2 separate regions of the Homo sapiens genome follow, and region 2 is linked to region 1. Evidence: fine-mapped expression QTL. A gene starts in region 1. The other region holds a variant in brackets. All regions are shown on one strand. Distances are from middle to middle.

Region 1 (16,387 bases):
AATGGCTATAATTTATTGAGGACTTTGTACTGTATACTACTATAGTTTCATTATATGCATTGTTTCTATTTTATACATTAACATCATAAAGGTATTATTTTTTCTATTTTAGAGATTACGAAACTGAGACTCAATTTAAGTTGCTTGTTGTATTAGTCCATTTTCATGCTGCTGATAAAGACATACCCGAGACTGGGTAATTTATAAAGAAAAAGAGGTTTAATGGACTCACAGTTCTATGTGGCTCGGGAGGCCTCACAATCTTGGTGGAAGATGAAAGGCATGTCTTATGTGGGAGCAGACAAGAGAAAGAATGAGAACCAAGTGAAAGTGGTTTCCCCTTGTAAAACCATCAGATCTTTTGAGACTTACTTACTACCATGAGAAAAGTATGGGGGAACCACCCCCATGATTCAGTTATCACCCACTGGGTCCCTCCCACAACGTGTGGGAACTATGGGAGTTACAATACAAGATGAGATTTGGGTGGGGACACAGCCAAACCATATCATTCTGTCCCTGGCCCCTCCCACATCTTGTATCCTTACATTTCAAACCAGTCATGTCCCCCAATGTCTTAACTCATTTCATCATTAACTCAAAAGTCCACAGTCCAGAGTCTCATTTGAGATGAGGCAAGTCCCTTCTGCCTATGAACCTGTAAAATCAAAAGAAGGTTAGTTACCTCCTAGATACAATGGGGGGTACAGGCATTGGGTAAATACAGCTGTTCCAAATGGGAAAAATTGGCCAAACCAAAGGGGCTACAGGGCCCATGTAAGTCCAAAATCCAGTGGGGCAGTCAAATCTTAAAGCTCCAAAATGATCTCCTTTGACACCATGTCTCACACCCAGGTCACACTGATGCAAGAGGTCGGTTCCCATGGTCTTGGGCAGCTCTGCCCCTTTAGCTTTGCAGGGTACAACCTCCCTCCTGGCTGCTTTCACAGGCTGGCATTGAGTGTCTGCAGCTTTTCCAGGCTCACAGTGCAAGCAGTTGGTGGATCTGCCATTCTGGGGTCTGGAGGACGGTGGTCCTCTTCTCACAGCTCCACTAGGCAGTGCCCAGTGGGGGCTCTGTGTGGGGGCTTCAACCCCACATTTTCCTTCTGCACTGCCCTGGCAGAGGTTTTCAGGAGGGCCCCGCCCCTGCAGCAGATTTCTGCCTGGACATCTAGGTGTTTTCATACATCCTCTGAAATCTAGGTAGAGGTTCCCAAACCTCAGTTCTTAACTTTTGTGCACCTGCAGGCTCAACACCTTGTGGAAGCTGGCAAGGATTGGGGCTTGCACCCTCTGAAGCCATGGCCCAAACTGTATCTTGGCCCCTTTTAGCCATAGCTGGAGCAGCTGGGGCACAGGGCACCAAGTCCCTAGGCTGCACACAGCAGGGGGCCCTGGGCCTGGCCCATGAAACCATTTTTCTTCCTAGGCCTCTGGGCCTGTGATGGGAAGGACTGCCACAAAGATCTCTGACATGACCTGGAGACATTTTCCCCATTGTCTTGGTGATTAACATTAGGCTCCTTGTTACTTTACAAATTTCTGCAGCTGATTTGACTTTCTCCTTGGAAAATGGGTTTTTCTTTTCTGTTGCATGGTCAGGCTGCAAATTTTCTGAACTTTTATTCTCTGTTTCCCTTATAAAACTGAATGCTTTTTAACAGCAACCCAGTCACATCTTGAATGCTTTGCTACTTAGAAATTTCTTCTGCCAGATACCCTAAATCATCTCCCTCAAGTTCAAAGTTCCACAAATCTCTAGGGCAGGGGCAAAATGCCACCAGTCTCTTTGCTAAAACATAGCAAGGGTCACCTTTACTCTGGTTCCCAACAAGTTCCTCATCTCCATCTGAGACCACTTCAGCCTGGATTTCATTGTCCATGTCATTATCAGCATTTTGGTCAAAGCCATTCAACAAGTCTCTAGGAAGTTCCAAACTTTCCCACATTTTTCTTTCTTCTTCTGAGTCCTCCAAACTGTTTCAGCCTCTGCTTGTTAACCAGTTCCAAAGTTGCTTCCACATTTTCGGGTATCTTTGCAGCAGTGCCCCACACTACTGGTACCAGTTTACTGTATTAGTCTGTTTTCACACTGCTGATAAAGACATACATGAAACTGGGTAATCTATAAAGGAAAGAGGTTTAATTGACTCACAGTTCCACATGCATGGGGAGGCCTCAAAATCACGGCAGAAGATGAAGGAAGACCAAAGGGACATCTTACATGGCAGCCAGCAAAGAGAGAATAAGAGCCAAGCGACAGGGGTGCCCCTTATAAAACCATCAGATCTCGTGAGACTTATTCACTAGCATGAGAACAGTTTAAGAGAAACCACCCCCATGATTCAGTTGTCTCCTACCAGGTCCTTCCCACCACACATGGGAATTATGGGAGCTACAATTCAAGATGAAATTTGGGTGGGGACACAGCCAAACCTTATCACTTGTCTAAGACCACACTATTTGTAAATGACATAGTTGATATTTGAGTCTGAGCTTGTTTGACTTCAAAATACAGTACCTCCATTTCTATTTTTTCTGGTTTTATAAGAACAGCTTTTTGAAAGTGATTTTTATTCATATATCCTTGCAATGGTGATGATGTATTTTAAGATAGCCATTTTAACTTTTTTATAGAAATATCATTTAGCTTCTATGAACAGTTGAAAGTTAGATCTCCCTTTGAATACATGTGTTTAGTGAAGCAAAATCTGCTCTAACATGAAATTGTCAGTTTTCTATTCAAGTAGACCTTTTCTGTTATGTTTAAAGTTACCTGTAGAGAATCATATTAAATTAACTGGATTCTTTATTTTTGATATTTTCATGAAATAAAGTTGCCATAGTATGCATAAGAATTGTTTCCTCTTTAGATACCATTGTGAATTAAACCAAATGTCAATGTATATATAATGATCCAGAATACATCAGTGTTCCATAATAAAGAAGGAAAGAGTTGTTTTTTCAAAGTTAATTATTTCAGTGGAGGAAACGCCTACAAAAATGATTGTTATAAAAAAATCTAAATTTTGAATGAATGTATAGATAGTATAAAAATGAATAATGATGAATGACATTTTTACATTATATATATTGTGCTCCATACATTTGGAGGAAAATCTTCAGTCATTGGAAATATTTTAGAAGGATTCTTGCTTAATTTTTCTTTCTGATACAATTATATGATACATACATATATATTACACAGAGCACACATTATTCACATTTAGAATACAAAATTTTCTGAGAAATTTTATATTTATATTTATATTCATATTCATGAAGCAGTCTGTGGACAAAGCTTGGTGCCCAATTAAGGAGACATTTATTGACCCCTTGGCTATGTGCCATGCACTGTATTGAACAGTTTTGAAAAAAACAATTATTATGATGGGAGAACAGGAACAACGATGTCAGAGCATCAAGATCTTGGTTCTACTGCTTTGCTATTGTTTTGCTGTGTGATATCCTGTCCATACCCCTCCCCTGATAGTGAACCCAAATGTATACTGCATTCAGCCATGTAGATAACGGGTATTGGATATAGAATTAGATGTAGGTCAGCATTTCAGCAGTATCATGGCCCATCCCCCAAAAAGGAGAAAATAAAAAACTGTGAGATCAGAGACGTCTAGGCTAATAAGTGGAATGTGGACCAAAATGCAAACCATATAGTCTTCCCACAGAAGTAACATTTCATATGGTGTGGTTAGGTTTGGATTTTTGAAAAGTATTTTTATTTTTTTTTGAGATGGAGTCTTGCTCTGTCACCCAGGCTGAAGTGCAGTGGCGCGCTCTTGGCTCATTGCAACCTCTCCCTCCCAGGCTGAAGCTATTCTCCTGCCTCAGCCTACCAAGTAGCTGGGATTACATGCATGCATCACCAAGCCAGGTTAATTTTTATATTTTTAGTAGAGACGGGTTTTCACCGTGTTGGACAGGCTGGTCTCGAACTCCAGACCTCAGGTGATCTCCCTGCCTTGGCCTCTCAAGTGCTAGGATTACAGGCATCAGCTACTGATCCTGGCCTGAAAAGTATTTTTAATGCAAGTTTATGAACTGGATAATCCTGGAGAAATTATGATGCTAAGTCTCAGTTTCTTCACCTGTAATATGATGGCTCCTGCCTCATGAGGTGGTTGGGAGAATTATATAATTCGTTATGTTTGGGCCTTAATCCAATGCTTGGCATATAGAGTCAGTGCTCAGCATATGCAGTCATCAGTTGGTATCCATGGGGAAATCGTTTCCAGGACACCCTGTGGATACCAACATCTGTAGATACTCAAGTCACTTATATAAAATGTTGTAGTATTTACGTATTACCTATGCACATCTTCTCATACTTTAAATCATCTCTAGATCACTTATAATAACTATCAATGTAAATGTTATGTAAATAGTTGGCATACAGTATTGTTTAGGGAATAATGACAAGAAGAAGCCTGTACATGTTCAATACAGATAGGACCATCCCTCTTTTTTCCCTGAGTATTTTTGATTCAACCAAGAGGTTGAATTCATGGATGCAGAACCCATGCATACGGAACCTGTGGGCCAACTCTGTTGCTGTGATTATTACTACTTACCACTGCTACTAGGAAAGTCAGCACTTTTAACAATGTTTCTCTTCGAAAAAATTCATTCTGACTTGCAGTGTTTAAATTGTTGCTGTAAGAATGCTTCTCTCTTTGCTGCTGTGGGATTAGCTATTTCCCTTCCCCTCAGGTTCCCTACCTCTTGGAGGTAGAAGATGAGAACCAGCTAGTTCGAAATTACTGCTGGTGACTCCTGTGGTTTCAGTCAAAGACTTCAGCTCCATAAAAGCTTGTTGGGAAAGTGAAGGCTGATCAGGGTTTAAACAAATCAGGAAGAAAAGGAGTTAAAACCACCTTGTGGTCTTCAGCAGTATCTAGTCTCTCTCACACACTGGTAGCCAGAGTGATGGACTCGGCTGTGTTCCATCCCTGCCCCCGCTGTTAACCATCACCTGTTGATTCCGCTGGATTTTCATTTACTACTGGAGAAGGGAACAGAAAACAGAAACACATGTAGGTTTTGAATTTAAAAACTTTTTTTCCTTTTTTTTTGAGACGGAGGTTCGCTCTTGTCTTCCAGGCTGGAGCGCAATGGCGTGATCTCGGCTCACAGCAACCTCCAGCCGAGGCGGGTGGATCACTTGAGGTCAGGAGTTTGTGACCACCCTGGCCAACATGGTGAAACCTCTTCTCTACTAAAAATAAAAAATTAGGCGGGTGTGGTGGCGGGTGCCTGTAATCCCAGCTACTCGGGAAGCTGAGGCAGGAAAAACATTTTTAAAAAACTTGTGATGGCAGAGTCAAAACAGAACAAGCCTCGGAAGATGTGCACATTTAACTGTCCTTCAGTATTCTGTGTAAAAATACCACTCACAGTTCACGTTTTCACTTTTGAAAGGCTCGAAGTGAGGGAAATCAACCATCATAATGAAAGAACAAAAGAATGATTAAAAGAAAAGGTGAATAGGATTCATGAAAACGCTTTGAGGCCGGGCACAGTAGCTCATACCTGTAATCCCAGCACTTTGGGAGGCAGAGGCAGGCAGATCACTTGAGATCAGGAGTTCGAGACCAGCCTGGCCAACATGGTGAAACCCCATCTCTACTAAAAATACAACAACAACAACAAAAATTAGCAGGTGTCGTGGCACACACTTATAATCCCAGCTGCTTGGGAGGCTGAGGCAGGAGGATTGCCTGAACTGGGAGGTGGAGGTTGCAGTGAGTCGAGATCGTGCCACTGCACTCCAGCCTAGGTGACAGAACAAGACCCTGTTTCAACAAACAAACAAAACAAAACAAAACAACCCCCCCCCCCACAAAAAAACAACACTTTGAAGGAGTTAGAGTTGTTTAGAAAAAAAAGAACTAGATTCTTAATGAAATAATATTTAAAAATCCAATTCTTTACTGAAGGTCATGAAAGATTCTATTTAAAATTAGTTAATATTTTGGTAAGGATTATATGTGCATGACATAGTGAAAAACTATCTTTCTTTCTTCTTTTTTTTTTGAGACGGAGTTTCACTCTTGTTGCCCAGGCTGGAGTGCAATGGCGTGATCTCGGCTCACTGCAACAATCTCCACCTCCCGGGTTCAAGCGTGTCTTTCTTTTATTCCTCTTCTCCAGCTGTCTGTTTTCCTCCGTGGAGACAACTACTGGTACTAGTACTGATCCTCTTCTTCCATAGATAGTCTGCATTTGTTTCTCCTAACTCCTCATTGAAAACACAGATGGCAGCATAGCATACTGCACATACTGCCCTATACTTTTACCCCTTTCTTCTTTGCCTTAACAGTATTCCTTAGGCTTTGTTCCGTATTGTGACCTGTAGGGCTGCCTTGTTTTCTCATATACTCACTGTGTAGCATTCCATTCTATGGGTATTCTGTAATTTGCCTAGTTTTCTATTCCTCAGGAAGTTAGGTTGTTTTTGCTATCCTATTTTGCTACTATAATGTCTACCAGAATGAATGTTCCTGTTTGCCTCTTACTTCTACTTGTGAAAGTGAGATAATTTCCTAAAAGAGAAATTGCTGGGCCAAAAAGATGTGCATTTTGAATTTTGGTAGATTTTGCTAAATTGCCCTGAACACAGGTTGTACCAGTTTAAACTCCCACTGACAGGCATGTTTCTTTTCCCATGTCCTCTTTCAGTTTGTTAAAACCTTTTAAAAGCTTTGCCTATGTGATAGATTTTTTAAAAGTCATCTTATTATGTATTGTTTTACATTTCTGTTATCAGTGAAGTTACTTTTAACATCTTTTAAGTTTCTTTTATGTTTATCTCTGAGTATTATATTTTTGCTCTTTGCCTATTTATCTTTTGAGCTCTTGGGTCTTAGAAGTTTTTAAGAACTTTTTATATATTAAATAAATTAACCCTTTGTGATATGTTTCAAATATTTTTTTCTCAACTTGTTTGCATTTTGACTTTGCTTATAATGTTGTTCTGTTGTTTTTGGTTTAAAAAATTTTTTTTGAAAAGTTTTTAAAATTTATATATGTATTATATGTATTATATAATATATATTATATATAATATATAATATATAATATATATTATATATTATATAATATATATTATATATTATATATAATATATATTGTATATGTATTATATAACATATATTATATATATTATATAACATATATTATATATTATATATAACATATATTATATAATATATATATATTATATATAATATATATATATTATATATAATATATATATTATATGCTCTAGGGACCTGCATATATATATATTTTTTTTTTTTTTTTTTTGAGACAGGGTCTTGCTGTGTTGCCCAGGCTGGAGTGCAGTGGCGTGATTATGGCTCACAACAGCCTTGAACTCCCAGGCTCAGGCGATCCTCCCACCTCAGCCTGTTGAGTAGCTGGGACTACAGGGTGCACCACCACACTTGGCTGTTTCCCGCCCCCCCCCCCCCCCCCCCATAAAGATGAGGTCTCGCTAAGTTGCCCAGGTTGGTCTTGAACTCTTGAGCTCAAGTGATGCATCCACCTCAGCCTCTCAAAGTGTTGGGATTACAGGCGTGAGCCACTGTGCTTGGCTCTTTATTTTTCAAATATGAAAATTCAAGAAGACTTCAGTAGATGTCTTCTTAATTTTTGATTAAATCAGATACAGTGGAAAGTCAGGGCTTTGCAGTTTGTTGCTGCTTGGTAAAAGACAAATAGCCATGAATATCCAGCAGGTCAGTAGTTTCTGTCAACATGGCTCTTTTCTAAGTAACAGTTGTGTTGTTGACAGTCATAGATGCTATACCTTTCACTCATTTCCCAGCAAGTCATTTTATTGCCACCATGACTGTTTGCAGTTTAAATGTGTAAAACTTTGCATGCTTTTATTTGATGTGATTGTCAGCATCTTTGAACTTGGGACACTTAAACTTTTTTCTTTCAAGGACTGTGGACAAGCCCAGCTTTTATGTCTCACTCTGGATACTTGAGCAGAGATGCATATGGCAGTCCTTACTGAGAGGAAGGAAAGATGGGTGTAATATTGGAAGGCATGAACCTAGGCAGGTCCCTAGAGCATACTTATCTTCTCTACTTATTGTGAGCCTCCTTAACTGTGAGATCTATAACTGTGCTTCTCATGTGCTTGGCCAGTGGATGGTGTTATTCTTTCTAGTTTTCTATTTACCTTTCTGGAGTCCGAGATCAAAAAAGGATACAAATAAAGCCTGCATTTTGAAAATACCTATTTTTAACTTATTAAGTGGAAACTTTGAGAAGAGTCATTATTACAGAATAATTAGTAAAAAATCACCTTCATTTAGATTCTGCTTTTGGTTATGTAGGTCACGCAGCCTAAGGCAGTGGGAGGGTCTAGGTGTCACCAGTATGGCAGTCAGACGCAGTGACTGTGCTGCCTGTGATTTCCTGTCTGTACCCTGACTGTAATTAAACCAGCACCAGTACCTGTCACTAGGGCACCAGACACACATCTGAGTATACATGAGTAGAGCTGAACAACCTGAATGTTGGTGCTTTTTATTCCATGCCTGGAGGTTTAGTTTTTTTTGTTTTTTAAGTACAAGATGGAGACTGAAAGTGAGAGTAGCACTTTAGGGGATGACAGTGTCTTCTGGTTGGAGTCTGAAGTTATAATCCAGGTGACTGACTGTGAAGAGGAAGAAAGGGAAGAGAAGTTCAGGTGATTATGGAATTCACAGTTCCTTTGTCCTGTCCACTCCCTACCCCCACCCGCACCCCTTTTTCTTCTCTGCATTTCGGTCTTTTTTCCAATAAGACTTTCTGTTTTCTGGGGGAAGGTTTGGAGCTCAAGGGAGCAGGTTTTGAGTTGTATATAGCACTCCTCATTCCACAACTTGCCCTGAACTTGTAAAATGCATTTTAAAGGACTTGTTAGAACGCCAGGAGGAGAAGGTGTTAGACAGGTTTTGTAGTAGCCTTTCAGGAATTTCAAGTAGACACTCATAATGAACTACTACCCCTTCCTGTATCTGATTTGTATCAAATAGATTTGATCTGAATTTGTATCTAATAGATTTTTCTTCCTCTTTTTCTTGGAATGTGGTGTGTGTGTGTGTGTGTGTGTGTGTGTGCGTGCCTGCCTGCCTGCCTGCTTTGTTTGCCTTATGCATGGGTATGAAAAATTCCGATTAAGTACAGATTGGTTATTTTGTGGCTTTGATCTTTACCCTTGTCTCTGATCTTGTATCTCATGCCCCCTTTCCCCCAAATCTCTCTTGGTTTTTGAATCTCTGGTAGTATTAGTAACTTCATAATTGAAGTTTTTAGAGGATGCCTCCTGATGAAGCAGCTCTCAGTTTAGTGTCTGTGGTGAAGAAAGATGTCTTAACCAGTTTGTGAAAACAGAACCAATGTTTCATTCATTCTGTTGTACTGTTGCAAATTTTAGGGGGCTTTATTCTGGCTTTTCTTTTTCTTTCAGAGTTAGCGATGTAATACCTTTGAGTATCACAAAAATCTCTTGATGAAGTTTGAAGTTTGTTGCTGCATATTATCACTGCCACTCACATGTGCAATTAAACATCTTTTATAAGTTTACCTATGAGAACTTGGATAGGTGAATATACTGTTTTCATCAGATACTGTCTTTGTGTTTAATGCTGAAAAAGAGTTTCTCCTTTTCTCGAGTCAAAGGATTTCTTTATCCACAAATTTTATTTTTTAAAGTCTAGGTTAAATGATGGAAGGGATTGAATATTGGGAACTCTTGATAACCCTCACTAAATTTTTTACTCTGGGGTTCAAATAAATGAGAAGTATATTTAAAATTTTAAAAGAATAATTTTCAGAGTATAAAAATGAATTATTAGCATATGATTATTTTTTGTCTGAACTTTTGTCTCATTTTCCCATAATTTTATCTAGCCTTTCAAATTTGAGTAAGTCCCTTCCCTTCCAAGGTATGCTAATTGTTAGTCACATGTTCTGCTTTTTAATATGGTTTGTGTCTTGCTAACAATGAGTAGGACTGAAGTATTTGTTTTGCTTGTAATAAAACTTTTTGACCTGGTATTCAAATTATGGAAGTTATTTGGGTATTTGTCAAAGGAAGAAACAACTTGGAACTTATTTCATTGTTGTTTTTATAACAGATTTGGTACTGTAATCCTAGATTTACTTGTAAGGCAGTGGGCGTCTCTCTGGGATTTTCTTTTGACAGTTAAAAGCAAATTTGTGTAAGGATGAGCTCTTCTTTTCCTTGGGAGTATGTGACAGCATTTTCACTCTGAGAAACTGAGCTAGTGATGTGTTGTTTAAGGAAACTATGATACCATAGGGCATTTCTCTTCTGTTTATATTTCCTATCTGAATAGCACCATGGCTCTCCTAAATCAATTATATCTTTGTGATTTGATCTGATTTTATTTACAAATGTAACAAAGAGGTCTGGGCAAGGCCCAATTTCATGTAGTGTCTCTCACGCATTCAGCAGTGAGGCATGAGGAAATGTGGCAGCAGAGTGGTTTCACAACCTCGTGGTGGTGTTCCTGCCGAGATGCCCTACAGGAAAATGGAGGCATGGGTGTGGAAGGGGAAGGGTCGGATAGGAGTTGCAGCTGTAACCTTGGGAGGACCAAATAGTAGACTCAGTGTGGTATGACAGTTGTTTTTGTAAAATCAATGTAATAATTTTAAAAATGTCTTACTGTGTTTTTATAAAAATCTCTGCAAATACATGTGACATCAAGCTGTCGTATTGGTTACATTTCCATTCACATACACACACATAGCTGAGATGAGGGCAAAAGATTGTGCACTTTTCTTTTTCCCTGAATAGCTTGTAAACTACATTTTAAATGCACTCTTAAAAGCCTGCTCTTGTGTAACTTAAGGCACCATGGCTAAGAGAGTAAAGTCATACCACACCTAGAATGTAGGCTTCTGGTGCTTCCAGGTGCCATCTGCTTTAGGAGGAAGTAGTCTCAGAGACAAGTTAATGTTTGTCCAGTAGCTTTTGAAATAGCATTTATTTTTGGACTCAGTTGGAGGAAAGGATCCTTTTTATTAACACTCTTTCACTATGGGAAGTTGCCGGTCTCCTTCATGGTGGTAGTTTAAATTTGTCTGCCATTGACTCACAGATCTTTCATTTTCTGATTTCTTATTTGTAGTCGGTATTATTACCTACCTTGTCACTGTGGTAAAATAGTTATTAGACTAGAATATTTAGTCCTTAGAATAAAATAGTTCCTAGAGATGATTAGAAAAATCCATCCCTGGATAAGAAGGAGGAATATAAGGCAGAAAAGGAAAAACATAAATGTTTTAATTCTATCAAGAAAGAAAAACTTTACTTAGAAATTGTTATATGTAATGTACTAGGCCATATATATGCTTTATACAGTGTATCAGTTAACTGCTTATCACTCCTATAAAGCAGGTATCATTTTTCCTATTTCCTCGGTGAGGAATTTATGGCTCAGAGAGTCACACAGCCCACATTTGTCATGGTGGAGCAAAATTTTGCAAGTGGTAGCACAAAAATTTGAACCCAGATGTAACTGACTTTGAAAGTGAAGACTTTAATGAAAGATTTTTGGGGCTATCTTCTGCTAAATGCTATTTTCTGCTAAGTGATAACTTATAAGAGGCTACAGCTGATATCTCAAGTTTTGAAATTCCTTTTTTTTGAGGAGGTTATGAGCATCAATGACATATAGATTATGTGACCATCATAAAAATGAAGTAATGAACACAATAATGTGACTTTTAAAAAATGTGACCTCTAGGACACCTAGGAATCATGAAAGGTTCTAGTTCTTTGGCATTTGAAGGTAGAAATGTTTATCATATGATTTTGTTTAGACTTCCCTAATACCACGTTATGGGCTGATAGACAGCCTGGCAAATATGACATATAATTTGAAGCAGCTACAGAGATGATATAGTGCTTAATTGAACCATATTTTTGATCACGATCTGTAGATGCCCAGATCGCTGATCTTCACGTATATCTCCATTATTAAGGCAATTCATTTTAAGTGACGAGAAAGTTCTGACTTTAGTTAAACTGGATGATTTGGTGAACATATTTTAATTGGGGGGGACAATGCCTTTATTGATTTATAGCATTATAGAACTAATGATACTTCATGCACTTGACTCGTTGGTTGGTTGCATTATTCATCCTCTACCTCAGGGGTTCCCAACCCCTGGACCGTGGACCAGTTATCTTATTTGGAAGGATGCCACAAGTTAGAAGCTATTGTGGCAGTCTAAGTAGGTAGTAAGGGTCTTGACTGTGGTATTGTACATCTTCTAGGCTCAAAACAGCTTTGAACTCCCAGGCCCAGGCGATCAGATCAGATCTAGATGATTTCTTTTAATGGCTCATTTCCCCTGGAAGCCCATAAAACAATTTCAAGATTTTCTGTTTTTATTACTCTGCCTGTTCTTTTATCTTCTGCAGAAATTCTTGATTTCAGGCTTCCCAGCCAGTTTTAATGATCCTGGAAGTACAGAGAGGTAGTATTAACAATTAACTGAGGCTGGGCATGGTGGCTCACACCTGTAATCCCAGCACTTTGGGAGGCTGAGGCAGGCAGATCACCTGAGGTCAGGAGTTTGAGATCAGCCTGGCCAACATGGTGAAACCCTGTCTCTACTAAAAATACAAAAATTAGCTGGGTGTGGTGGCGGGTTCCTGTAATCCCAGCTATTTGGGAGGCTGAGGCAGGAGAATTGCTTGAACCTGGGAGGTAGAGATTGCAGTGAGCTGAGATTACGGCACTGCATTCCAGCCTGGGTGACAAAATGAGACTCCATCTCAAAAACAAACAAACCTCAACAAACAAAAAAACCACACAAAAAAACCAAAACAAAAAAACCCAATTAACTGTATGTCCATAAATACCATATCACACCCAGGCCCATTTTATACTGTGTGGCTTTTCAAAGGCACCACATCTTTAATAACCTATTACTTATGATGTCAAAAAAGATGTATATTTTGCCCAAAAAGCTACAACTTATATTGTTTTGTAACCTTGAAGAAACATCTGGGATTTAGTTTAGCCCCTAAAATATTATTTTAAAAAATTATTTTTAATTTTAGGGGGTTCATAGTGGGTATATATTTTTATGGGGTACATGAGATGTTTTGATATAGGCACACAATGTGTAATAATCATATCATGGAAGATGGGGTAACCATCCCCTCATGATGGGATATCCATCCCCTCAAGCATTTACCCTTTGTTTTATAAACAATCCAATTATACTCTTTTAATTATTTTTCAGTGTACAATTAAATTATTATTGACTATAGTCACCCTATTGTGCTATCAAATACTAGGCCTTATTCATTTATTCTAACTACTTTTTGGACCCATTAACTATCCCCACCAGCCTCCCACTATGCCCCCACCACCCTTCCCAGCCTCTGGTAACCATCCTTCTACTCTCTGTGTCCATGAGTTTAATTGTTTTGATTTTTAGATCACACAAATAAGTGAGAACATGTGATGTTTGTCTTTCCGTGCCTGGCTTATTTCACTTAACATAATGACCTCTAGCTCCAACCATGTTGTTGCAAATGACTAAATCTCATTATTTTTTATGACTGAATAGTATTCCATTGGGTATAAGTACCACATTTTCTTTATCCATTCATCCATTGATGGACACTTAGGTTGCTTTCAGATCTTGGCTATTGTGAACAGTGCTGCAACAAATATGGGAGTGCAGATACCTCTTCAGTAGACTGATTTCCTTTCATTTGGGTATATGTCCAACAGTGGGATGGCTAGATCATATGGTAGCTCTATTTTTAGTTTTTTTGAGGAACTTCCAAACTTTTCTTCATAGTAGTTGCCTAATTTACATTCCTGCCAACAATGTGTGAGGGTTCCCATTTCTCCACATTGTTGCCGGCATTTGTTATTGCCTTTCTTTTGGATATAAGCCATTTTAACTGGGGTGAGATGATCTCTCACTGTAGTTTTGATTTGCATTTCTCTGATGATCAGTGATGTTGAGCACTTTTTCCTACGCTTGTTTGCCATTTGTTGCCGTCTTTTGAGAAATGCCTGTTCAAATCTTTTGCCCATTTTTAAATCGGATTATTACATTTTTTCCTATAGAGTTGTTTGGGCTCCTTATATATTCTGGTAATTAATCCCTTTTTGCAAATATTTTCTCCCTTGCTGTGGGTTGTCTCTTCACTTTGTTGATTGTTTTCTTTGCTGTGTAGAAGCTTCTAAAATATTCTTTTAACAGTAAGTATAACATTCACCCAACATACTCTCATCAGTGAATTTAATAGTAATCAGCAAAGTCTGATATGAACATCCCTTAATCTCAGAACATTTTAGGCAGTAATGGAGTCTAGCCATTAGGCTGTCTTCATAATCTGTGAAATGAATCTGTCTTAACCGTGAGGCATGCCAGTACAAGACTTTCTTGGTATTTTAGTAATTAAGCCCTTTGGGATGGAGTCCAAGGTGGGCCTTTCTTGTATCTATCTGTATGAGTATTTTGATGTTCAAGAAAGGCCCTAGAGTACACAAACGATATAGACCTGTATAAAAGTTCCTGGTTATTAGGTTGTTTAATTGAAGTTAAAAAGTTTAAACCCAAACCTAATTTTTCTAACTCTTGCATTTCACTTTGGCACTGAACTCTCTTAAATAGTCAATAGGACTTTCAAAAATAAATTGAAATCCCTGAAACATTTAAAGCTCTATTTATAAATTAGTTAATTTTCTTTTTTTTTAAATTAAATATGTCAAGTGACTAGCTTAGCAAGATGATATTCAGAGCAGGCAAAACCTTCCCAGATACTTAATTTTGGAAGTTGCGCTATACTTTTCTTTACATTAATGATTAGTTTCCATTTCCATGTTCTCATAATCATACATGTATTTTCTCTATTTGAAAATAAAATGATTTCTTTCACCCAGGTTTTCTCTCTCTCTTTCTGTGTATGTATGTTTGTGTTTTAAATCATGGTTCTCTCTTCTCCTCTACTTCTCTTCCTTATAAAATAAGATCTTTAGGAAACTTTAACTTCCTCCTTCTCTCAGTCTCATACTTCTAGATGAGACTTTTGAAACTCTTTTATTCACCCATTCTGCCTCCGTCAGTTTAATGTTTTTTGCTTTTCATTCAGATTTAATTATTTGTGTCATTTTTTTATTATTATTATACTTTAAGTTTTAGGGTACATGTGCACAACGTGCAGGTTTGTTACATATGTATACATGTGCCATGTTGGTGTGCTACACCCAGTAACTCGTCATTTACATTAGGTATATCTCCTAATGCTATCCCTCTCCTCTCCCCTCACCCCACAACAGTCCCTGGTGTGTGATGTTCCCCTTCCTGTGTCCAAGTGTTCTCATTGTTCAATTCCCACCTATGAGTAAGAACATGTGGTGTTTGGTTTTTTGTCCTTGTGATAGTTTGCTGAGAATGATAGTTTCCAGCTTCATCCATGTCCCTACAAAGGACATGACCTCATCATTTTTTATGGCTGCATAGTATTCCGTGGTGTATATGTGCCACATTTTCTTAATCCAGTATATCATTGTTGGACATTTGGGTTGGTTCCAAGTCTTTGCTATTGTGAATAATGCCACAATAAACATACGTGTGCATGTGTCTTTATAGCAGCATGATTTATAATCCTTTGGGTATCTACCCAGTAATGGGATGGCTGGGTCAAATGGTATTTCTAGTTCTAGATCCCTGAGGAATTGCCACACCTACTTCCACAGTGGTTGAACTAGTTTACAGTCCCACCAACAGTGTGTCATTGTTTAGTGTTTATGTTGCTTCTTCTCTGTATCACATTCTATCTTAATGTATCAGTTTTGGATCATTTGTATTTGCCTGATACGTTCTTAAGTATTTTTGTTCAGTTAAGTTCTCTGGGTGATATTCTCTGATTTCTTGTATAAGCTCAAATGCCAATCTGTTTTTTTCTTTTCCTTTGTAGGTAACATGTTCTTTTTGCCAGACTACTTGTTAAGAGTTTCTTTTTTATTGTTATGTATATTTTGTTACCCGTTCTTTAGTTTGGAGCTTAGTGAGTTCTTTATTTTGGAACTTAGTGACTTTCAGTCTACAGAGTCAAACCTTTGTGTTAGGGAAGAAATTTTTTTGTTTCCTATTATTGCCTTTGCCTCTATTAAGTCCCCTTAATCTTTTATTTTATGATATATTTCTTTTTACATTTTACTTTGTGAATTGAAGTTTTTTTGTACTTGTTCTCTTAGCTAATTTCATCTTCTTTTTTAATTGTTCAAATTCAATTTGAGTAGATAAATTATTTTTAAGGGTTCTTCACGTATAGATACATACACACAAGGTATTTTTATAA
Region 2 (16,387 bases), 96 kb before region 1:
ATAATCCTCAAAATAGCAGTCTAATTTGGATGAGAAGGACTGCTACAAACATGATGACTGTAAGAAATGTCCCTCACTCCTCCCCACCTCCAGCGCTCTGGCCAATGATAAAGACAAAGAACTGGGTTAAACGGGAGCCAAAGCATAAGCATTATTAGGGCCTCAGTGGGCTTTCCTTGTGTCTGTGCCGCATGGGGTCAGTGGATGCCATGAAATGGACTCAGGGTCCGGTCTTACTTCTCCCAACTCCAAAGGAGAGTGTGAGGTGGGGATGCCAGCCATACTCTAGACCACTCTGCCTAGGAGCCAGTGACCTTTGAGGAAGCACTTGCATACCTCACCAGATTGAAAGGGCCAGCCAGGACCCTGTGCAGAGGGCCCTATACAGAGAGGTGATGCTGGAGCGTTATGCAGGGGTGGCTTCCCTGACTTTTTCATTCAGCTATCCTGTTCTGGTCTCCTAGCTAGAGAAAGGGGAACTCCCATGGAACCCCTATCTCTGAGAATCTCAGAGTGAAACCATAAATGAGAAGGAAGGACTAATTCCAAAGGAGCATAGGTCCAAAGAAACAGAATCCCTCCGACTGACACTGGGAGGGCTGCCAGAGAATACTCCCCAGCACCTAGATTTTGGGAGCAGCCTAGAGCAGCCCCAAGGTCACTGGATGGTCAAGATAAAGTCAAAGAGGGGAGATTTCACAGATGGGTCCACCAGGCATCAGGAGGCCTGTGCTGATGAGAGAGGGGAAAGTGTGAGAAATTAGGAAAAAATGTTAGCGTCAGCACACAACTCTACGAATCAGACAACTCCTACCGGTCAGATAGCTTATGAATGTGGAAAATGTGACAGGTATTTCAGTCAAATGGCAGACTTCCACTGACATCAGAGAGGTCACGGTGATGAAAAGTTTTGAATGCAAAGAATGTGGATGACTTCAGATGCAGCACATTACTTGTTTGGCATCAGATAATGCACACTAGAAATAAACCATTTAAATGGAAAGAATGCGGGAAAGGTTTAAATTCAGATGCAGCCTTGATTCAGCATCAGAGAATCCACGCTGGAGAATCGCCCTCTGAACGTAAGGAGGGTGGCAAGGCCTTTGGCAATAGCTCAGTCTTCCTTTAGCACCAGAGGTTCCACACTGGGGAGAAACTCTGTGAGTGTAACAAACATTGGAAAACTTCTAGTTGTAGCTCAAGCTTCATTGTCCATCAGCAATGCACACTTGGAAGAAACCCTATGAATGTAAAGAGTGTGGGAATCTATTAAGCACGGCCTTGACTCAGCATCACTGAATTCACACTGGAGAGAAGCCCTTTGCATGTAAGGGTTGCAAGAAGGCATTCGATCAGAAAATAACCCTGATTCAGCACGAGGGAGTTCACACTGGTGAGAAACCTTATGAGTGTAGAAGGTGTGGGAGCCCCTCAGCTGGTGTGGAAACTTCGTTATGCATCAGAAGCCACACACTCAAAAGGCACCCATTTAAGCATAGGGCTAGCCACTATCAGGCTCACTACACCCCTCTTTGTTTCTCCCTGTTGCATGATTTTTAAGTGTCCCCACTGTCTCTCCTGGACTGTGTTGATTCTTAACCATATGCCTCTGTCCCCACAGCTCTGCATATCTGGAATGCCCACTTCTCCACCTGTCCAGTCATATATTTAATTCAGACTCTTGGCTTCCATCATGAAACGTTCCTCAAATTCTCTGAGCCCTTGCCTCCCCAACATGAACTCTCTTCACAGTTAGAAAAGAAATAAAAAACAAACTCCAGAACTTTCAAACATAAGAGGAATGTAAGTTTCCAGATTCAAGAATACACCGAATGCCCAGCAAGATGGATTGGGGGAAACCTACATTAAAGAACAACACCGTGATTTATGAAAACACCAAGCTTAAAGAAGAAATCCTAAAAAGTTTCTAGAGAAAGGAAACAAAAGATCAGAAATGAGCATGGCTTTAGATTTCTCAACAGCAACCTTGAGAATTAGGTGACAATGGTGTATGCCTTCAAAGTTCTAAGGAAAATGATTTCCACCCAGAATTCTATGCCTTCAAGGGTAAGTATAGAATAAAGGCATTTCAGACGCATTAGTTAGGCTCATGCATCCTTTCTCAGAGAGCAACACTAAGTAAGGGATAAACCGGGAAATAAAAAGACAGATATGTGGACACCCTATTTCAGTCTGTATATCAGAAGTCTCCTAAGTGCAAAAACAGAGGGGTTCTGTCCATGTGGAGCTGTATGCATCTTGCAGGACACCCTTAATAGGGTGAAACTTTCAGAGATCTACCCGGGGCACGGTGTCCACCCACCCTTCTTACTCTGTGCTACTCAATCGCAGTCTGTGCCTTTGTAAAATTCAGGGTGTACATATCCTTTGAATTAGATGCAAGGCCCTATTTGTCTTAATTTTTTTTTTTTTTTTTTTTTTGAGACACGGTGTCACTCTGTTGCCCAGGCTGGAGTGCAGTGGTGCAATCATAGCTCACTGCAGCCTCCATCTCCCAGGCTCAAGAGATCCTCTCACCTCAGCCTCTCGAGCAGCTGGGACCACAGGCACATGCCACCATGCCCCGCTAATTTTTGTATTTCTTTGTGGAGATGGGGTTTCACCATGTTGCCAAGGCTGGTCTCAAACTCCTGGATTCAAGCGACCCACCCGCTTCAGTCCCCCAAAGTGCTGCTGGGATTACAGGCATGAGCCACCAGGCCCAGCCTGTCTTAAATTTATCTCACCGCTCTTCCAAGTGACCTCAAGGCAGGAAACATTTTCTTGCAACTTCATCTAGTTATTTTTTATGAACAGGGAAGAACCTGCCATTATTTTCTGTTACCTGCGGAAATGAGGGAAGATGTGAATGTACTCTTTTGCCCATCTGCCACTTTTGCAGGCAGCCTGATTTTGCCCATTGCAGGAAGCAGAGGGTAGTGGTTAGTATAATAATAATAATAATACACAGCAAGGATGACTTTGGTTTGAACCCAGGTGCGTGACCTTGCTTAAGTTATAGCAACTCTGTGTTCTAATTTCCTTATCTGTAAAGTGGGGATGACAATTAATCTACCTCATAGGTTTGTGTTGAGTATTTAATGTATTGATGCACGTAGAAGTGCTTTGAACAGAGGCTATATGTAATAAACCAAAGTGTTACCTATTAGGGCTTTAGTGATAGCTAGATTGGAAATGGTGGGACTGGGTGTAGAGGAAGGGGTAGAGAGGAGAGCCAGCTTTCTTGATGGCAGCAGTTCTAAGTAACAGAGAGAGAGAGAGAGAGAGAGGGAGAGAATGAGAGCGTGCTATGCACGGGCAAATATCCATTGCCCAAGTTTCAAAGCAGGGATGGCTGCTGAAAACGGATGCCAGACTTTCAATAATTTCGAGAAGGTAAGACTGTCATCCTCCTCCTTTTATTACCAGCCTTGTTTTAATAAGTAAAGCAAATTGTTCTTCCTTTGTGTTTGCTGTTGTTTTTCAAAAATTACCTAGTGACTCTCAAGTTGATTTTTTTCAATGAAATTTAGAATTTTTAGAAAAATTCAAATTCTAGAAATAAGTTGAGCGCAAGCAGCACATCCTTTTAATGTCATATGGGAACAAAGGCCACCTTAGGATTGTAGGGAAATGTACTTAGTTCATTGTTTACTATTGATTAAAGGTCCCAGACTAATTACCTGCTAAGTGAAGTGCTTGCTAAATTGTACGGAAGTTACCTGCTAAGTTGCAGATTTCTGTCCGGTAGAGATGCAGATAATTTCTGTCATTTGAAACAGATCACCTCAAAGAGTTATGGTCTATTGGGCAATAACCAGTTTGTTTGTTTTTTTAAATCAAATTTGGCAATCTTATCCTAACATTTCTTTGTTAGATTGCTTATAAGAAATGAATTGTTCAAACACTCTCAGAATCAGTCTTAATACCTTACTGGTTTCCTCATTAACTAATGAGTTGAATAAAAGTTTTGACATGAGCTTAATATTTGCTGGGTAGTCAGGATGTTACCTTTCTGAAAATTATCTGTTAATAGATTATGTTTTTCCTAAAAATATCTTACTGGGATTTTGATTGGAATTCATTCCATTTATAGCTTCACTGGGGAGAACTGACATCTTTACAATACTGACATTAACTATTCAGCACCTTGTCTGTTTTTCCCTCTCCTCAGAGTTCTATAGTTTCCTTCATTTAAATAATACACATTCTTGGGTAACTTACCTTTTGGTTGTTGTTAATAGGAGTTGTTTCAGTTTTTATTTTCCAACTGGTTATTTTTTGGAATATAAGAAAGTTTTTTGGTGTGTATAACCTAACTTCTTACTGTATTGTTAGGTTATTTTTAATAGATTTATTAAAGCATTTCCATATTTGATTATAATAATGTTATAATCAAATAATGATAATTTTGCTGCTCCTTCACCAATATTTGTAGCTCCTTTATCTTCTCATGAAGCACCTTCAGAACGGTGTTGAGTAATGGAATGGTGGGCGCTGTTGCTTAACATTATCAGGCTTATTGTGAGGTAAAATGTTTAAAAGGCACTGGAGGAAAAGCATATTTTTAGCAACTTAGACACAAGAGAAAGGTATCTTTACTAGCTCCATCTCTATTTTCACCTAGTTCCTTTCTCCTGCCAATATCTCCAGCCTTGAGTCCCCTATGTATTGGAGACAGGAAGGAAGTTTCATTAGTTATTATTGTATTAACCATCTCCATATGTAGCAACCGTAATGTGCTCTGAATTTACCCGGCATCTCAAAAAAAAAAAAAATGCTGCTTTGATTGAGAGATAAAAGGAGGTGATTTTTAATGTTGGAAGTGAACTTAGAGGAAGTGAGTTGGAATAGGATATACAATTCCTGCAGGACAGGGCACCCTGTCCAGGTGAAGAGAAGGGGCCAAACAGCATTCCTGTTCCTGCCAAATGGCCCTGGTCATTGCTTTGGCCTTGCCAAGGGCAGGGCCCCCACTACAGACTATGTGGAGCTGCGAGCTGAATACAGAGCACTCTTCTGTGCCTCTCGCCTGTGGAGCAGGCTTGTCTGTCCCAGATCACACTTGAATAGATGAAAAGAATCCGTTTTTCCCTTGGCCCGAGGCCTGCAGTGGAGGCCACAAAGGCGCTTACAGACAAACTGGAGTGGAAGTGCAGCAAAGAAAGGCTAGAGAAGACTTAGGAAAGTTTAAGAAGACATCAACAAGAACATGTCTAGCTAATGTAGATAATGAGTTATTCAAATGGCCCCTTTGCTCTCATTTGGAGAAATGAACGTTGCAAAGAAACTAATTACGGCCAGCTCCTGTAGTTTTACTGGAATCCTATCTCTCAACATCTTTAAGAAAATCTAGGTAGAAAGAAAGTTATTGGCCCTAAAGGTGGGACCCTGGGAGATGGGAAAACACATCTTGAGCAAGACCGATTTCTCTCCCTCAAGCTTGATACAGGAATTCAAGAGTTTAACCAAAGGAAGAGAAATGCCGGGTTAATGCATGATAATGACACCCAGTTGGGAAACCTAGTAGTGATTTTTATCAAAGCACTTTGTTTGGTGGGTAATTGTGAGAACGGGTCCCTTTGTTTAAAAGTCGTTTTGGGGAATAGCTGGAAAGACAAGTCCTTCCTCTCGTTCTACTCTGGTTAGAGCCAGTGAAATGGGACTGTCACATCTGAGAAATGATCTCTCCTCATGTTCCTGTCCTGAGTGCTTTTTAAAGTACAGTCCTAAGATGTTTCGGAGACATCTGTCTGTAGTCCTAACCCAGCGTTCAACAAGGAGTAGGATCCACAGGACCTAAGCTGCCAAGGAAGCCTGATTTTTCTAGGTACCAAATGAGTTAACTTTTGGAAACACGTATTTTGAGAAAAAAAATAAGTAGACTATCAGGACTACCATAGGGTATCAGGTCTA[C/T]GATTTTAAGGGTGAAAGTTCTTCTACACTTTTTCCTACAATTTTATTTCTGCCCTTGTTTCCTAGCTGGCTGTTTCTGGCCTTTGGTGGAGGATGGTGTTTTGGAATGTCTGGCTTAGGGCACCTATGTCGACACCACTAGGGATGCGTGTTAAAGTGCAGACCCCCGGGCTCCACACTGGAACTACTAAATCAGAATATCTGAGAAAGAGGAGCAACGTGTGTGCCTAATTCTCTCAAGTTTGAGGAGAACTGGGGTTCTGAAGGCACAAAGACCTGAGTTTAAAACACAGTGTTACTGGTTACTGTATAATGTTAGGCAAATTATTTAGCCCTTGTCTTCAGTTCTCTGGGCTGCAAAGCAGGGATGATTCTATCTACTTGAAATTGTTCCAAATACTGTCATATTTATAATTAACATGAACCTTTAGAAGGAGCAGAAAATGTTTGATACACGTTATTGATTATGTTTGCTATCTTACATCAAATATTTACTCTGCTTCATCCCTAGCTGTTAACATTGATGCTATTCTCCCAGCCTAGCTGCCAGAGACTCCCGAGTGGCTGCAAATCAGCGTGGTTTATTTACATCTTACCCGTCCTTCCTTAGCGCTAGGTAATGAGTCTTCCTATACACCCTGCCTTATAAGCAAAGAAGAGCCAGTCGATGTGTCCCAGGGTTACCCAGGACCCACAATAGGGACAGGCTTCCCTATTGCTCTTGACCCCACAGTTTCCTGCCTTGGTTTTCTTGTCTCTGCCCACTGGCTCTGTTTCTATCCGCAGCTATGCTCAACTTTTCGGTCCCTTCAGGCTCCTTTTGCTGGCCCTTGCTGCTCTTTGAAGTGCAGGCTGTAGTTATTTTCTTCTTACTCCCAATTCTCCCATCCAAGTACTAACCAGGACCGACCCTGCTAGCGAGATCAGATGAGATCGGGTGCGTTCAGGGTGGTATGGCTGTAGACATATTCACAATTCTCTATTAAAGACTCTCCCTTGTTCATTCCCTTTCCTGTGGAACTCCCAGTGGTGCAACAAGGTCCTGCATGTCAGAGGAAGGGGATCCAGATAACCCACACTCAAATTCCCGATGAACACATTCAGAATGGCAGACATATTCAGAACGGCAGAAACATTCAGAATGGCAGGAAACAACTGGACTATTTGCTTAGAAATACTGGTCTTCTGGAGTTAGAGACTTTCGTCCTTACTCCATTTTATGAAAGTCTTCGTGTTTGCTCAAGTCTACTCTTTTGTCTTTCAAGGCTGAAAAGTGCGTCTGCGACAGCCTTTTCTGGAAGGAAGGTGTGTTCAGTGGGTTGTGTGGGAACAGTTCAAACAGCATTGTGAGCATGACAGCTTCCAAGTCAAGGAGTTGGTTATTAATTGCTCAAAGCTTGAAATGCCAAATATATGTGAGTGGGAGGTTATGATTTCTCATTCTCTGTCTCTCTCTTGCTCTCGTTTTTCATACGTAAGTTTCAGCAGTTGGACACTCTCCCCAAGAGAGCAGCGTAGAAAAGAAACATCCGTGGCACAGTTGTCCCTCCTTAATGGTTGAGTGCACAAAAGTTACATATAAAAAAGGTAGCATGAAGTAATAATGCTCCCACAGACTCTCAAAACACCAACTGTAAGCTACTTCATTCTTATGCCATTGTAAGGGAAGGAGTTGGGCAATATTATCATCCCCGGTATTCAGGTGTGAGATTGGAGGAATGGAAGCATTCAATCATTTCCCCAAGGTCGCTCTGTGAGTCTCTGGTGGAAACTGAACTTCAGTAACAGCGCAATTAGCACTTCATAAGCACCTGGTAGACCTTGACACTGCTGATCCTGGGTCCCTGGAGATGTACAGCTATTCTCCAGATAAATACTCTCTCTCTCTCTCTCTGTCCCTCTCTCTCTCTGTGTGTGTGTGTCTCTCTCTCGCTGTCTCTCTCTTCTTCTCTTTGTCACACACACACACACACACACACACACACACACACGTACATACCTATGGTTGCATAGAAACAGGAACCTTCACTCTTCCTGGGCTCTGCTTTTCACAGGGTAACCAGGTATGTTATACTGTGATAACACACCTCACAGACATGTGTGTTGGGTTAAAGAAAATCCTGGATTTGTAGATAAAAAGAACTATACCATCTCTGTGGGGATTACAGTACCAGTCCTGAATTCTGGGATATGACTGATCACAGTTATATTGCTTAGAAGTGAAATGAAAAATTGAGGTCTGAATAAGTTTAATTCAATGAACATGCAGTAATAAAGATAGGCTACAAGGTAAATAGATTTATATTTACAGAAAACCATACAAATATAAAGTATTTGGGAGTAAAAATTAATGAATATGTGGACCAGGTCCTGAGGGAATATGCTAAGAACTGAACCTATTTCCTATAATAAACTGAATTTAGGCAATAATTAGTACCAGCCAGCATTAATTGTGTTCCCAACTGCTCAAGGAGTTTAGTCAATTATAAAATTGTAACGGTTCTACCAGAACATGCGTGAACTTGGGGACTTTTCTGGTTTCATCAGCCAAGGCCCAGGGCCAAGACCTCAGCATAAAACCAGTCTTTGCGACTCTCCTCGGGACTTCCCAAGGAAAAATGGGAAATCAGTGTCAGATAGTGTTTTAAGAAACAGCTCTCCTGGGACTCACTTTTTAACTAAACAAAATCCTTAAGGCAAAGGACTGAGGCACTAGGCATGGAATTCTAAGTATCAGCCGGTGGGTGTGGGAAGAATTCTGACTCTCAGAAGTCTGTGTTGTGCACACACCTTTAGTGATAAGATTGCTCCACCAGCCATTACAAGTTAGAGAAAAAAAAAAAAAAATCATGACACTAGAAATGTCCAACAACAGGGGACTAAAAAAATATGGCATAGACATATGATTATATACAAATAATGTAGAAATATTTATTGGCAAGAAAAGTTTAAAAAGCATTAAGGGGAAAAAAGCAGATTGCATGCATTATTTTCAGTATGATCTTGTTTCTGTTAAAATTTTTTATATATATCCATGTACATGAAGACATGTAGAAGATATGTACCAAAATATTAATAATGATTACCTCTGAATTGTAGTTATGAATTTTTCCATTTTACTGCCATTTCTAATTTTTTTAAACCAGGGGCTTGTGTTGTTTTCTCTCTTTTTAAATCTTTTTGTTTTCCTCAAATATAGAACACTATACAGGCTACTCTGAATAAAAATGGTATTTTAATTTAACATAAACACAAAAGGCTATCCTCCCTTTTATCTCCTAAAGTAAGGAGAGATTCATGAGCTGCTTAGTAGTTCATCAATCATTCATGTGTCCTATGTTCCAGGTGTAGAGTATGGGAATCTAGGCTAAACAAAGCTGCGCTGCATCCTGTGTTCCTCCATAGAGAAGACTGAGGAAATTTCCACAGCAGCAGGATACCAGGCAGAGTTTCCAATGGCAGTGGGCTACTGCCATTCATTTTATTTCTCCCACCCTGGACACATGTAGAATATCAAGGTAGTCTTTGAGGTAGGACAGTTCTTGTGATCTCTTAGGTCATCTCATTGGGTTCCTGCTGTTGCTGGCCATGGGGCCATCCCTGACACTTTAAAATTAGTTACTGACACAGATTCCTAAAAGCATAGTCTGAGATATAAAAGTTATTTCTGAGAAACAAAGTTGCTTCATTCTGAAGACTACGTTTAGAGGTTGTGCACCAGCAGACAAGAGTTTATGTAACAGTTTGTCTTTGTTCCTCGAGCCATGTGTGACCTTTCTGCTCCTTCCTGCTGACACCATCCCCGACCGAAAAAGACAATCTGCTCAGCTTAATGTCCCTCCTTCCCTCTGGAGCCTTCGTGGAGTGTAGTAACAGCAGCTGCATGACTTGTACATAATGTAAATACTTTATTTACTTTTGTATTTAATTTATGCATCTGTCCAATGTTTGCACAGCTGTTTGATGTCTGTATACTCGGAGATTAGCTTTTGTGGGTTTTGTCGATCTTAAACCCAAAGCATAGAGAAATGGAAGGGTCTCATTATTTGCTTTTCTTTGCCCAGCCTCCAGCATGGTACCATACAGATGAGAACTTAATGAAGAAGGATGCTTCTGAGTAAGATTTAGTCATCTCCTTGAAGATACTTTTCTCCTTTGGAAAAGGAAGAATCAAACTTTCCTGAACTTCTCAGGGAGAACATGGTGGTTGACTTTGTTTCTTCTGTCAAAGGACATCATTATAGTACCAAGGTGACATCGAGGAGGTTTTAACTCTCCCAAAAAGTTGCACCAGAGGATTTGGGGAGGTGTAGGATGTGACAGCCAGCCCAGAAGCAGGGCTAGTAATTATAAAATGGGTGACGATGGAAAAATTGCTCTCTTCTTCGGGGTTACTTGCCCATCAAAGAACAGCAAGGACTGGGCATGTGAAATGCCAATGGTTTGGCTAATCAACACGCCACAGCTTAGCTGGAGTCACTGTACTTGAATGTGGTTTTGTTTTTAATGCTGTGTTCTTGTGGGCATGGAAAGAGTTACAGCCAACTGCCCCAGGTATGGTAACTAGAGGCGGTGGTGGAAATGTAAATGTAAGGACCCTTTGTCTTCTCCCCTCCAGTAGTAAAGGGGACGAAAGAGAGTGGAGAAGGATTGCACTCTTCTGGTGGACTTTCTCCTGTGATGCACAGAAATGCACGGATAACGTTAAAAATATTTTAAATTGTATTTATTTATATATTTTAGAGATGGGGTCTTGCTATGTTGCCCAGGCTGGTCTCAAACTCCTGACCTCAAGTGATCCTCTTGCCTTGGCTTCCGTGGTACCTACCTGTAATCCAAGCTATGATCGCTTGAACCCAGGCATTTGAGATGAGACTGGGCAACACAGTGAGACCCCCATCTCTAAAAAAGTATCGTCTTGTTTTGTGTGACCTGGCCATCAACACATATTTACAAAAAAGAGATATCTCTCTTTTATTATCATAAAGCATAGACTGAATTTTAGATAGGTTTTGAATCTCTCTGTGCCTGAATTTCTCTCAAAATTAATAGTGCCTCATATTTGATAAAGCACTAAGTTTTCTTTTGAAAGGTGCACAGAAAACTCTGCATTGCCTAAATTATAATTTTCTCAACTATTTGACCCAACCTATCACTGTTGTAGTATTCTTTAACAGAGCATTCTGTTACCATGAGTAAGGGAGTTGCTGCTTTTTTTTTTTTTTAAATCAATCAAGAACTACAGATAAGTACTTTTAAAATCAGACCATGACTGGGGAAAGCAGGAGTCAACGAGTCAGTTTGAGTCTGTTATCAGCTCTGCCTGAGACTGGCCTTTTATATCACTCTGAGGAGTAATGCTGTTTGTTTTCAGCATGAAATACATAAGAGAAAAAATTAAGTAGGGAACAGGAGAATAATATTTGGATAGGGTAGTTTTATTATTTTGTCTGACACATTATGTCCCCTAGCCCTCAGTATATCCAGGGATCATCTATGCTTAAAGTTAAATACAAGATAACTTCCCAAGCCAAGTACAAGTGATTTTAAAAAATAATAAAATGCCTTATAGGATTACCTACTACAGTTCTTAAGTTGCCCAGGAAACATCACATCACTGCATGCAGTGTCAGAGACATCGGTAAATCCTCCGCCAACAAGTATTTTGAATATAGCAGAAAAACACAGATGTTTTAGACCTTCTGAGATGCATTAAGTTCTGGAAACTGGAAGCCATAAAAGACAAAATCGTGGGAGGGGAATTGCTGGGAGCACCCTGGGAAAGCAGCCACCCTGGAGTTGAGTGACCTCTCTTTGATCTCTAGCTTTCCCAAGTCACTTTCCCATGCATTTCCTCAACACTGGTTTCAGTTCTTTAGATCTAATAAAAGCCTTTGGGGTTGGGAGCATCACTGAGTAGAGTGCTGATTCAGGCCAAGCTTGGAGGGAGGAGTGGAGCATTCAATGTGTTTACAGTAAAGTGTGTGTGTGTGTGTGTGTGTGTGTGTGTGTGTGCGCGCTTATGAGTAATAGCAACTTCTCACCACTGTCACAGCCACCAATGGGAGATTTAGCTTCCTCCAAGTCACCTCAATTAAACATACGCTCTAAATAAAGCAGCATGCTTGCTGGAGACAGAGCTTCAAAAAGTCCCCTAGATCTCTTTCTCCTTCCAAACATTTTGCTGCCCTGAAGCATGTCATATATAGAAATGTTATAGTTGCCTCTTTGTTCATTCATTCTTTCAAGGATCTCCACATTATATTGTTTGATAAGAAGTGGAATTAATACTTTACACAAATGCTTGCATTTCCGTGCTATTCCTTTCACTTCCTGATCATAGTGCACTCTGACTATAAAATGGATTACGTGTTGTTCCTCCTAATGCTTCAGTATATAGAGCCTCCCATGGTAGGTGATATACTTGGGTGACTCTACAGGTTGCTTCGCGACTTCCAAAAGTTTTTTCTGATAATTTTGGAAGTGCTGCATGATTTAGAAATGCTGATTCACTTCAGTCTTTAGACACATTGAAAAAATATATTATTTCTTCCTCATTTTCAAAATATTACACAAAGAAGTTTGGAAAGTAATAATAATCACTGTTCACTTGCAAAATTCCTTTCTTCTAAAACATTTTTATAATAATTAAGTCATTCTATCTTTATGATACCCAACTAAAGAGGACAGCGGGCAAGCCCATTTTACAGATGGGAAAACAGATGTTAATTGCCTTGTCCAAGACTACATAGTGAGATAAGATAAAAAATGAAAGGGAAACTTGTCCTCCTAAAATTTATGTTCTTTCTCACCATGGTGATTATTTCAGTTTGGATTGAGAAGCCAATTCATATAATTTGGCTTTTTCTGTGCCTTTAATTTCTACATATTAAAACCTAATTGCAAGGTTAGACTGTGATTTTGTCCTACGGGCACTAAATTCCTCATGTAATATGTACCTTTCTCTGCTGAATCTTGATATTTTCTTAGATTTTCAGTATAGTTTGTCTTGATTTGACTTGCAGTGCACTGCAAATGATATAATTTTATTGTGGAATATATGAGGCTGGAGGGCTGGGGAGAGGTCAGAGCTGAAAGTACAGGAAATTTAAATTACATAATGTTACACTTTGCAATTGTTTCCACTTGTACTAAGTATAAAGATAGATCCATGGCAATACACAACAGCAGGTAAGAAGTGTGTATAAAGACTTTGCACCCTGATAGTACCATTTATGTATTCATTTGGCATAAACATACCCATTTGTGAATAAACAAAGTCCAGGCCCTCATGGTGCTTACATTTTAGGAACAGAGTCCAATAATAAATATTGATTACACAACATAATCATGTAGTGATAAGTGCTATGAGAAAAAAAAGAAGCAGAGTAAGGGGACAGAGAAGGCAGAACTATTTTATATAGTAGTAGGAAGGTTAATTTAAAAGCCAGGAAGGTGGAGTCTTCCTGGCAGGTCTGAGAAACCTCAGGAGGGAGGTGGGTGTGGCTGAGGCAGAGTGAATGGCAAAAGGTAAAAAACTGAACTGGTGAGTCAGGGCTGAAAGGACTTGAAAGGCTGGGAAAGGACTTTGGATTTTATTGCAGTGTGATTAGAAGCACAGGGCCCTGGAGTGTTTTGGGCAAGAACAAGGACATTATCTTACCAATGCTTTACAATAAATTCTCTGGTGGCTGTGTAGAGGCTAGACCGTGGAGGGGAAAAAGTGGAAGCAGGGTGATGGTTCGTCTGTCCCAGTCACCCAGGAGAAAGATCACGGGGAGGGCAGACATGGGTGTTCGTGGTTAAGAGAGAAGGATGCGATTGGCTTCCGTACCATTTGAAGGTAGGCTAAAATGAACGTGGTGATTGAAAGGAAGAGATATTTTTTGTCCTGTGATGAGGCAGACTTGGAGGAATCAGTTTTGGGTTTTGTTTACAATATGGAAATCAAAAGTTCTGTTTGAGACACATTAAGTGGGAGATATTCAAATGGAGATGCCTGGAGGCAGCAGGATATAAGAGGGTGGAGTGCTGGGGAGGGGCCAGGGTTAAAAGTAGAGGCTACTTAAAGCCTTGCTGGAGGATGCTGCCTAGGGTGGCAGTGTAGAAAGAGAACAGGAGGGGCCCACGGTCAGAGCCCTGGGGCAGGCAGCAGATAGAATCACAGAGGAGGCCAAGGACCCCATTCAAAAGTGGACATGTCAATAGGTGGAGTTGGTGTTAAGGTTTAAAGACTGAAAAAAAAAATTTCATAGGAGAATAACACAAAGTTCTGAATTACTATGATAGAGGTTCATGATGAAAATGTGATAGGGAAAGGAGAGAAGATGGAAAGTTTATCATTTCAATGAATGCATCAGGGATTAATAACATCTCAGTGAACAGCAGTACTGGTGTTCCTTAAAATGTTGCCCATGGTAGTGGGCATGGATTCCATGTTTACAGGGGCTGTTTCACGAGCGTCAATATTAGCAAGGAGTATGCTACAGACAGACAACACATCTTTTTTTGACATCTCTTTTTAATAGGGACACAATATGCAGCTGGCGCTTTGGCCAGGAAAGAATAAATAAGCAAGACAATGTCAATTGTCGCTTTGGGAAAATTCTGTGTTAAAATTCTCTATGAAACCTGGCCTACTTTCAGCAACTTTTCTCAATACAGCTGTTGAGCATTCTCAATTTGGGGATGCAAATAAGCTTCTTCTCTCTCCCTTGCTCAATTCCCAGGCCATCTTTCAAACTCAAGGTTAGGTACGTATTGCAGTCCTCTGTGTGGCTGCCCTCGTCACTGGCCCTACTTGTCTGCACCGTGACGCTGCTTCAGCGTCTAGAGGGGACTGCAATGCAACAGATCTGAGATGCCAGGAGTGAACCCAGATGCTACCTCCTGGCAGACAGCAGTGCCAAGACTGAGAAAGGAGGCCAGCCTGAGGTCTCCAATAGCTTCGGCAAGAGGGGGAATTTGTTTTTTCCCCTCCCCTCCTACCCCTCACCTTGTACATATTGAATCAAACCATACATAAGCTACACATTCAGTTATTTAACATTGGACAGACTTTTTCTTGTATAAGGAATGTTGCAATTTTTTGTGATTTATGTATTTAATCATTAAGGGTGTTATTAGGACAGAGGTAATTGATTACAAACATCTGAAACGCCAAGGGCAGATGGCTGCAGAGTTACCCAGCAATCACAACTTCCAGTTCATATGCAGGTTTGGCAATAATAACTAGGACACAGGACATTTGGACAGTGTGGCCCAAGGAGAGGGAGTGCTGGCTCAGAATGAGGTTAAGGAGCATCACCAGCACCCTTGAACTTGCTCAAACACCTCTAATCTTTGGAAAACACACATGGCATCCCTTTGTTCTCTTCTATAAACTAGATATACTACATATAAGGAGAGAAAGTTACCAAAATGTTTAGAGGCTCTAAAGTAAAATATCTGTGTCATCCAATGTATGCATAATCCTAGCTCTTTTATATATTATGTACCTCCACCACTTAACCATAAACCATTTAACATCCATTCAGCTGCTGTGGCTGACTTTCAGGGTGCGGTGGTGAAACTGTGGGATGTGAAGGATTTCTGAAAAGAATGCATATTGTCATCGAGTAGCCAAGAGACTGGGGCCTTGGGCAAAACTTGCTTCTCATAGTGACTTGGTTTTCTGTCCCACACGACTTCCTCTTGCTATCACAGGATGTTTGTGTTTAATGCTCAACAAACCCCTAGAACAACAAAAGCTACCTAATCCATACCTGTCCCTCTCTGGCAGAGATGGCTCTCTGTGGCCCAAAGATGAACCCCAGGGAATTGCTGCAGTTTGGTGAAAGAAGAGTTTTAAACTATGGCCTTATTATGCTGAAGTCGAAGGTCTCTAGTTTTTGTTCTTTACCTTGCTGTTTCTGTAGCACTTAGGAGGTATCCATGAAGACCCTTATGAATCTCAGGTGCACCTGACTATTTCCAGCAGAGGGCTGCCATGCATTTATTTCAAGTTGGCTTCTTTCAAATTTTCCCATCCTAGTTTGTGCTTCTAGGCAAATCTTCTCATTCCATCCCTTCCCTAGTACTTGTTCTTTAAAGCAACTTTGATTACACTGAAGCTGGAAGAGTGGGATTATTGTGCATGTTCACTCTCTAATTTCTCTCCAGGATGTGGTGAAATCCTGCTTCACGTATGCCCTTGACATTCTGCTAATCGCGGTCAAGGCCACGTTTTATATTCAGTGACTCCCACTGAAATGACTAAATGCTGAGTGGACCCAAATTACTGCAGTGACATTAGATGATGCAGTATTTGGCATCGGTAGACTTGAGAATAAGAGTGAATTCTGTAGGTTAATCACCCCCAACATTTATTTAGATACCAAACTGAGTCAGAAGTGAAAGGTACACGCTTGAAAGAAAAAAATGAAAATAGAACGCGGTAGAATGTCAAGATATCTTTCCTGTATTCTGTGAC

Alleles and levels. Positions count from the first base shown, and alleles are read on the strand shown. Sizes are in standard deviations (SD) of each study's normalised expression.
In carriers of allele T in region 2, the expression in iPS cells of the gene that starts at base 8,483 in region 1 tends to be lower than with C alone (moderate effect, 0.71 SD a copy in PhLiPS).

What was found. PIP is the estimated chance that this variant, and not a neighbour inherited with it, causes the effect.
Region 2: its variant is fine-mapped to the expression of ARHGAP32 in iPS cells (PhLiPS, PIP 0.95).

What each region holds. Positions count from the first base shown.
Region 1 is chr11:129,184,421-129,200,807 of GRCh38, reverse strand. ARHGAP32 (Rho GTPase activating protein 32) reads left to right here and starts at 8,483. Exons shown (of 23, transcript NM_001378024.1): 1 at 8,483-8,725. The coding sequence starts at 8,610.
Region 2 is chr11:129,280,398-129,296,784 of GRCh38, reverse strand. LOC124902791 (a long non-coding RNA gene) reads left to right here and starts at 1,627. Exons shown (of 2, transcript XR_007062950.1): 1 at 1,627-2,067; 2 at 9,981-11,825. It overlaps LOC399975 (a long non-coding RNA gene), which reads left to right and starts at 13,621. Exons shown (of 2, transcript NR_145484.1): 1 at 13,621-13,759. It also overlaps the pseudogene ZNF123P. RefSeq lists an enhancer at 13,253-13,754. The variant C/T (reference allele first, on the strand shown) is at 5,917.